Homo sapiens: one gene and its partner. The protein of the gene in region 2 interacts with the protein of the main gene of each other region in a pairwise test. Each region holds a gene or a part of one and is shown on either strand. Other genes may lie near its edges.

Region 1 (3,744 bases), on a different chromosome or scaffold from region 2:
TCACTGCACCTCCCTGTGCCTCTAGTTCCCAGTCCATGAGGTATAGATAACCATGCCTACCTGCGGGGGCTGTCAGAATGGTGGGACAGAGGCAGCTAGTCAAGACCTATGCAGGGACTCTGCCAGGGGTGGGAGACTATCTACCAGCTCCCTCCCTCTCAAGAGGCTGTGGGGACACAGAGCCCACCTACAGATACATCCTGTGCTGGATAAGACTGAAGCCCTCAGATTCAGGCCAGAGCCTGGGTGGCACAGGGAGCAAGCTGCAGACAGAGACAAGGGGAGCTCTGCGACCACATTACAAGCCATGTGCCATGTGCCATGCCACCTCCTTTACCTGGGTAACCCATGCATCTGCACAAGGCCTTAGGAAGTGACGACGAGAGCTATCCCCATGTTCTAGAGGCACAGAGCAGTTAAGTAACTGGCCCAAGATCACAAAGCTCACCCAGTGTCACACAGCTCAACCAGTATCAACCCAGGTTAAGAGCCCAAGCCACACTCTGAGACAAGGTGCCCTTTGGGTGGCGAGGCTCCTTGAAGAGGGAGCTTCTCCAGGGTGGGCAAAGGTAACCCCTGCTACAGGGGCCAGAGAGCTGGGCTGAGCTGCAGGAGATGCCCAGTAGAGGGGGTGGGAAAGATGGAGGCTGAGGGGCTGTCAGGCCGCGCGGAGGGATGGACAAGGGAGCTGCCACTGGAGATAGAGCAGCAGTAGGGACTGCCCTCTGTCTCCCAGCATGCTTCCTCCCCTTCCCCCACAAAACAGGGCCCTGGCCACAGAATGACTTTCCAAGCCTCCCTTGTTGGCAGGTAGGCACGAAGTTCTCTCCAGGGGAACATGAGAAGTGGTGCAATTTCCGGTGGCTTCTACAAAAACAGCATTGCTTGCCCTGCCTTCCTCTTCCTCCTAGAGCATGAGTTTGCCTAGGACCCAATCTCCATGGCCAAACGCGATGCCCCAGGCAGGATGGGTAAGCTACGGCCTGTGGACCAAATCCAGCCTGTTTGTGCAAGTAAAGTTTTATTGGAATGCAGCCTCACCCACTCATCTCTGTACTGTCTCTGGCTACCTTTGCGCTACAGAGTTGAGTAGCTACAACAGGGCCATATGGCCCACAGAACCTGAAACACTCACCTTCAGAGAAAAGGTTTTTGACCTTCACCCTTAGGCATACAGGGGCAAGATGGAGGGATGACCTGATCTTCCGCAAGCCACTTGCCCTGGGGCACCCACCTCAGTCAGAAGTGAAGGAGAAACAAACTCCCCTCTTCTTTAAGCCACCAGATATGGGGATTGCTTTATAGTGCGCGCGCACGCGCACGCACACACACACTCTCTCTCTCTCTCACACACCCTGGCAGAGCAAACCTTCAGCACTCTGCTGCTGCCCTGCAGCCTTGGCTTACGGACACCTTGGGGCAGCTGGAGACAGAGGCAGGCAGCAAGGGAAGAGGAGACTGGGAACCCAGAACCCCAGGGATCTGCAGCACCACAGAGAGGAGGCTGTCCCCACCCACCCTCCACCCTCCTGCTAGAGAAGCTGAGGATCCCAAGTGGCTGACAAGTGTGGAGTGTCTGTGACACAGGCTCATCACTCATCCTCTCTCTGGAGCCCAACAAGGCTTCCTCTACCTGAAAGAAAAATCCAAAGTCCCACAGCCTTCCCCTCCAGCCTTCTCAAAACGTCAACCATGGGGCCAGCTGGGCCCTTCCACAGACCCCCAGGGCCCTGGCGCTCCCTCTCAGCCCACGGCAGCACAGGTTGTGTGCCATCCCCAGCTCTGCCTGAGCCCCCACCTCAGTGTGGTCGCTGTACATGTAGTAGAGCACGTGAGTGAAGACGTCGGGTGAGATGCCATGCAGGGTGACGGCTGGGGGGCCCCCTGAGGTCGCTGGCTCCTCGCTCTCTCGGAAGTGGTCATCCAGCAGGGCTCGGAAGTAGTCACTGCGGCCACAGAAAAAGGCCTGGGGGAGGCCGGGCTCAGGAAGTGTGAGGGCCAGGGTCTGTCTCCTGAGGAGCTAGACGGGGGCTCAGGGCAACGGGCTGGGGCCAGGGGCAACAGGAGGGCACAGGCACCTTGTGGCAGAGGAAGCTGCAGCCAGCCACTCGGAAGCAGATGTCAGGGCAGCTGTTGAAGCCGTCAGGACAAGGGAAGGGCAGCTCCCAAAGATCACCCTGGGGTACAGAAGAGGTGACCCCATCAGAGCAGTTGTTCACAGAAGTGAACGACTAGGTTCAGAAAAGGGAAGTAACTGGTCCAGGACCACACAAGGAATTGAGCCCAAGTATCTGGGCTGCCTGTCACGGCCTGCCATCCCAAAACGCCCTTCCTGCCCACCAGCCCCGCACTTACTCGGAGCTCGGGGGGCAGGGCACAATCGGCCAGCAGCGCCATGTCCTCCCGGAGGCGGGGGTCTGCAGGTGGGGGCTCGATGGTCAGCACCTTCACACACGTGCCTGGCTTAGACGCCACTACAGGGGAAGAACAACTTCAGGGAGCCAGGCCAGCCCTGCCAGGCCGCACCCATGGCCCCGGGCCCCAAACCCTGCTCGCACCAAACTCAGACACCTTCTCGCACTTGGCCTCCAGGTCGCTGAGCAGGTCCCACAGCTGGCATTGCTTGGCCAGGCGCTCACAGTCACTCACATGCTCTACGCCAATGTCCAGGCGGCCTGGGGGCAGTGGGGAGGATGAGGGCCTGCGGGACCTCAGCTGTCATCAGGCCCACAGAAAAAGGGTGATCCCCTCCCACCTGGCCACCTGGCTGCAGGACTAGGACTCCTGGGCCCACTTGCCACCATGGTTTCCCCATCAAAAGCTGTTCTACAGGCCCCAGGGAACAGATGGGAGGGCCTCAGCATGTGGGTGGGACAAGCTCTTCCTGAGCAGGCACACTAGTCCTCTCTCTTGCAACCCAACCCGAGAGGCAGCTGGAACCACCCCGGGGGGACCATGAAGTGTCTAGAGGTGAAAGGTCAGCCCAGCCACACCTAGGTGTACTGCTGTCCAGAAGGACGGCCCACTCCCTCTCCTCCTACCCTGGACCCAGGGGGTCACCTGTGTACAGGTACTGCAGCAGGGCCCCAAAGGCCACGGGGTTGATCTGTGGGCAGAAAACCAGAAAGTAATGTCAGAGGCAGCCACCCAGCACAACCTCCTGCTGTTCCTGGACAGTTCATGCCCCTCTGCCACCCTGAAGGGACATACCAGTGGGTGCCTGAGAACCACGACACTCTTGCCCTTCCATTTGGTGTCCAGCATGTTGGCAAAGTAGGCACTACGTGCACCCAGGACGCAGCGATGCACCCGGAATGGCTTCCCGTGTACTACAAAGACCACGTCACTGTGGATGCCCTGCTCTAGAAGCCTGGGGAGGGACAAGCCAGGAGGGAGGATACTTGGCACAGCCCCACCCCATTCCTCGGAGCACTCAGAACCCAGTGCAGGCCACAGTCAGAGCAGACTCGCCACACCCACCAGGGCCACCGCACCCCATGCTGCACCCCTCGTGTGCCCTGGCTCACCGCTGCAAGAAGTCGTCATAGTAATCCCGCCTCCTGCAGGAAGCCGTGACCTGCTTGTAATCGCGTAGAGCCCGGCGGATGGGGTCACTCAGTGCCCCATAGAGGCAGCGCTCACCATCGAAGGTGTTGGCCTCGCAGCGGGCTCCTGGGGGAGGCAGGGCTCACCAGTTAGCAGGGAAGGGGCCTGGGGGAAATTCTAATCTCCCTGTCCCTCCTC
Region 2 (3,744 bases):
GTGGGGTGGATCACGAGGTCAGGAGATCTCAAGGCCATCCTGGTCAACAGGATGAAACCCCGTCTCTACAAAAAAAAAAAAAAAAAAAAAAAAAATTAGCTGGGCGATGTGGCGGAAGCCTGTAATCCCGGCTACTCAGGAGGCTGAGGCAGGAGAATCGCTTGAACCAGGGAGGCGGAGGTTGCAAAACCAGGGAGGCGGAGGTTGCAGTGAGCCAAGATCACGCCATTGTACTCCAGCCTGGGGCAACAAGAGTGAAACTCTGTCAAAAAAAAAAAAAAAAAAAAAAGAAAAAAAGAAAAGAAAAGAAAAAATTGTCCCTTTAATTATCTCATTTCCATCGAGAGACCTTCTTAACTTAACCCCAATTTTGTTATTTACAATTTTTCCTTCAGAGTGTACACATCTAATATTCAACAGTGTAAGTTCCTCGAGGGCAGGGGTTATATCTTCTTCAACTTCTATTTCAACAGAATGAAGCACATTATACTTTCAATAAAGTGTTAAAAAGGAAAAATAAACAAAAAGTTACTTTTAAGTAAACCAGCACTTCAAATTTTGACTTTCTTTTTAACATCAATATTTAGGGGTGCTTAAATTTAAACTTAATGACTACTAGTCCTTAGAGATCATCATTTACTCCAAGTACACGAGGAAAGCTTTAAAAGATAATTTTCCATGAGAAATCTTTCTAAAATGGATTAACCCACTTTCTTGTCTTCTTAAACAAGGTATGAGGACCGTAATGTAAGCTGCTTAATTGAGGACTCAGGGTCATCGTGTGAACAATCGCTGGACTATTTTGTAACACACGCGTGCCCTCGGAGGCTCGGTGCCAGGGCTGTGAGCGCTTGCACGAAAGGAAAAACCCCAGGCCGTGTGAAGTCTAACTTTCCCCGTCCTCTCGGTCAGGCAATCCCACCGGGGCACCTGTCTAAAAACACCCCGCCTCCGAACGCGCGCTCTTGCGGAATTCTCCCGAACCGCAGAGCCCTCGTGGCTGGGACCGCATAGCAACCGGGGGCAGAGTGCGAGCCCCCAGCGGTGTGCTGGGATGGAAAAGCAGGAGCCGCTGAGGATGGACTACGGGGCGTGTTCCCGAAAAGCCGGGAAGAGATGTGGCGGGGCTGCCGCGGGCGTCTCTAAGGCCGGCACGGGTGGCGTCTTGACTCCCTGCCCCTCCAGCCGCGGACCTCGGACGGGGGGAAGGGGGCTCCTCCAAGCGGGGAGACGGTCGCCGGCCGAGCAGCAGGGCTCCTGGCCGGCGGAGGGTGCTATGCTCTGCGGGACCGCCGGGAAGTCCCAGACAAGGTCTGCGGGGGCTCTGGAGGAAAAAAAACGCGCTGTGAGGTCCAGGCGTCCGCGGGAGGGGCCGGGGGCGGGGAGGGAGCGTCCAGCGGGCACCGAGCGGTCACGCTCCGGCCACCGGGCCGAGGACGGGGCGGCGGGGCTAGGTCCCGGACCGTGAAGGGAGCGGCGGGTCGCGGCAGGTGCGGGGTCCCCAAGGCCGCCGGCCAGCTTCCGCGCACACCCCGCGGCCCGGGCCGCCGGCCCCCAACCCCTGCCCGGAACAGGAGAACGCGCCCTTCTCCACGAGGCGTTTCAACCGCTCCGCGCGAGGGGCGCGCGCCTGGGCCAGGCGTGTCCCCTACCCCAGGGGCAGCTCGGCCAGGGTGAAGAGTGAAGCCCGTGAGGGAATGGAGCATGCGCATTCGCGAGGGCGAGGCCAAGTGCTGGCAGGGAGCGTGCGCAGTGTGAAGGTACAATCGGCTACGTGGGAACCCGGGACATGCTCGGTGAGCGCCCAGGTCCCGCGCACGCGCAGAAGCGCTCGGAGCCCGCAACCCGCTGGTGGAGAAAAAAGAGGAGAGAAATCACCTCAGAGTTACGTCAGGAAAGGCCGCGTTTTGCGGGGAGGCTGTAGCCTCCCAAGGAGCCCCGCAGTTCTCCTAGAGCTAGGGGCGTGACAGTTACTCACCGGTCTTCAGTCTCGAGGCAGACGCCGGGCCCCTTTCCGCTCACACTCGGCTCGCGCGCGCCGCAGCCGCCGCTGCCGCTGTGATTCCATCCATCTTGAATTTGACGTCATCCCACACCAGGGATGAGGTCATCGCAGGCATCGCTCGTCACGTGCGCGGCACTCTGATTGGGCGCCGGGCGCCGGAGGGCGGGGCGGGGGGGGGGCCTCGCGGCGCAGGGGGACGGGGGAGGGCGGGCCTGCCCGGAGCCGCGCGCCGAACGGACGCTGCCGCGCTGCAAGCCCGCGCTCTCGGTCCATGAGGGGAGCCTGCGGCGGCCGTTAGGGGAGGCGGCCGGGCTGGGGGCCACGGCGAGGAGGCTGAGCGCCCCGGCCGGGTGGAGTCCGTCGCGGCGAGGAGCGCGCCGATTCTCAGGGGACTTTGCCGCCTGCCGGAGGCGCCCTTGCTGCGGGGTCGCCCCGGGTCATTCGGCCGCGGTCCTGCCCAGCTGGGCCGCCAGTAGTCCCCGCTTCCGGCGCGGCGGGATGCGTGGCGCGAGCGCTTAGTCCCTCGGAGGGGAGGACGCGCTCCCGTTCACCGGTGGACGGCGGGCGACTCCCCGAGCCGACGACCCCGACAGCGACGGGAGCGACGCGCGGCTTTCTGACGGGCGCGGGCGGCGAGCGGGGCCCTGCGGTCCTCGGGTCGGCGGCAGACGCTCCCGGCCCGCGAGGAAAGCCCGCGGGAGGCGGCTCCTGCCGCTCGCTAGTCGCTCAGAGCGCTTCCATTTCCTCCTCCCGACGCAACCTGGCCACCTGGCCCCTGGGCGGGGACCCGGCGGCCGCGGCCAGGGCGTCCGGGCTCGTTCGCCGCGCAGATGGGGGTCGGTCCTGACCCCCGCCGGGGCGTCCACAGCGGCCCGCAGGCAGCCGGAGACTTCGCATAGTGCCCGGCTCATCGGAGGGCTGTGATCTTTTTTTTTTTTGCAGAAATATTACAACTCCACTGATGAGAAAACTCACTTCGCTTTCAGTCAAAACCAGAAATTAGATAACAGAAATGCCACACTGTCAACACCGACCGGGAGGAAAGCCTCGCTGGCGGAGACCGCTCAAGGGAGCCCTCCGCGCGTTCTCCCAGCCCGGGTCGCAGGTGGAGGGGGAGTGCCTCCTGCAGGGACGGTTCTCCCGCAGACACTCAAACTCCGGGATGTAAAACCCCTGTTAATAATTGTCAGGGGTCTGTTAATTGCCAAATACAGTTTTTGAAAGTTGTATGCACTAGGTAAAATAATTTATGTAATGTTTGGAAGTATGTGAAAGACAGACATTAGATTGATACAAATTAAAAATTTGTTGCCAAATTAACAGCTCTGTTGTAGATTATTAGTTTGACTAATTTTAAGAGGACTCTTAGTCTTACATAAAGAATCTTGCACCTAAAAATTTTCTCCTACAACTTTAAAACACTTTAAATTTTTTTTTTTTTTTCCTGAGATGGAGTCTCTGTCAGTCCCAGGCTGGAGTGCAGTGGCATGATCTCAGCTCACTGCAGCCTCCACTCCCTGGCTCAAGCCATCCTCCCGTCTCAGCCTCGGCAGTAGCTGGGACTATAGGTGCATCCGTCACACCTAGCTGATTTTTGTATTTTTGGTAGAGATGGAGTTTCACCATGTTGCTCAGGCTGGTTTCAAACTCCTGGTCTGAAGCAATCCACCCGCCTCAGCCTCCCAATGTGCTTGGATAACAGGTGTGAGCCACCATGCCCAGCCTAAAGAGTGTCTGTA

Evidence for each region.
Region 1: the proteins of ZBTB21 (region 2) and ABTB1 interact in binary tests that used the Homo sapiens proteins (3 or more experiments, as listed by UniProt).

Annotation. Positions count from the first base shown.
Region 1 is NC_000003.12:127,675,898-127,679,641, reverse strand, and holds part of ABTB1 (ankyrin repeat and BTB/POZ domain-containing protein 1), read right to left. Parts: intron 3,673-3,744; coding exon 3,528-3,672; intron 3,371-3,527; coding exon 3,211-3,370; intron 3,107-3,210; coding exon 3,061-3,106; intron 2,676-3,060; coding exon 2,559-2,675; intron 2,475-2,558; coding exon 2,356-2,474; intron 2,178-2,355; coding exon 2,079-2,177; intron 1,967-2,078; coding exon 1,799-1,966; intron 1-1,798. UniProt on the Homo sapiens protein: May act as a mediator of the PTEN growth-suppressive signaling pathway. May play a role in developmental processes.
Region 2 is NC_000021.9:42,008,274-42,012,017, forward strand, and holds the start of ZBTB21 (zinc finger and BTB domain-containing protein 21), read right to left. Parts: upstream 2,088-3,744; 5' UTR 1,979-2,087; intron 1,325-1,978; exon of another isoform or gene 1-1,324. UniProt on the Homo sapiens protein: Acts as a transcription repressor.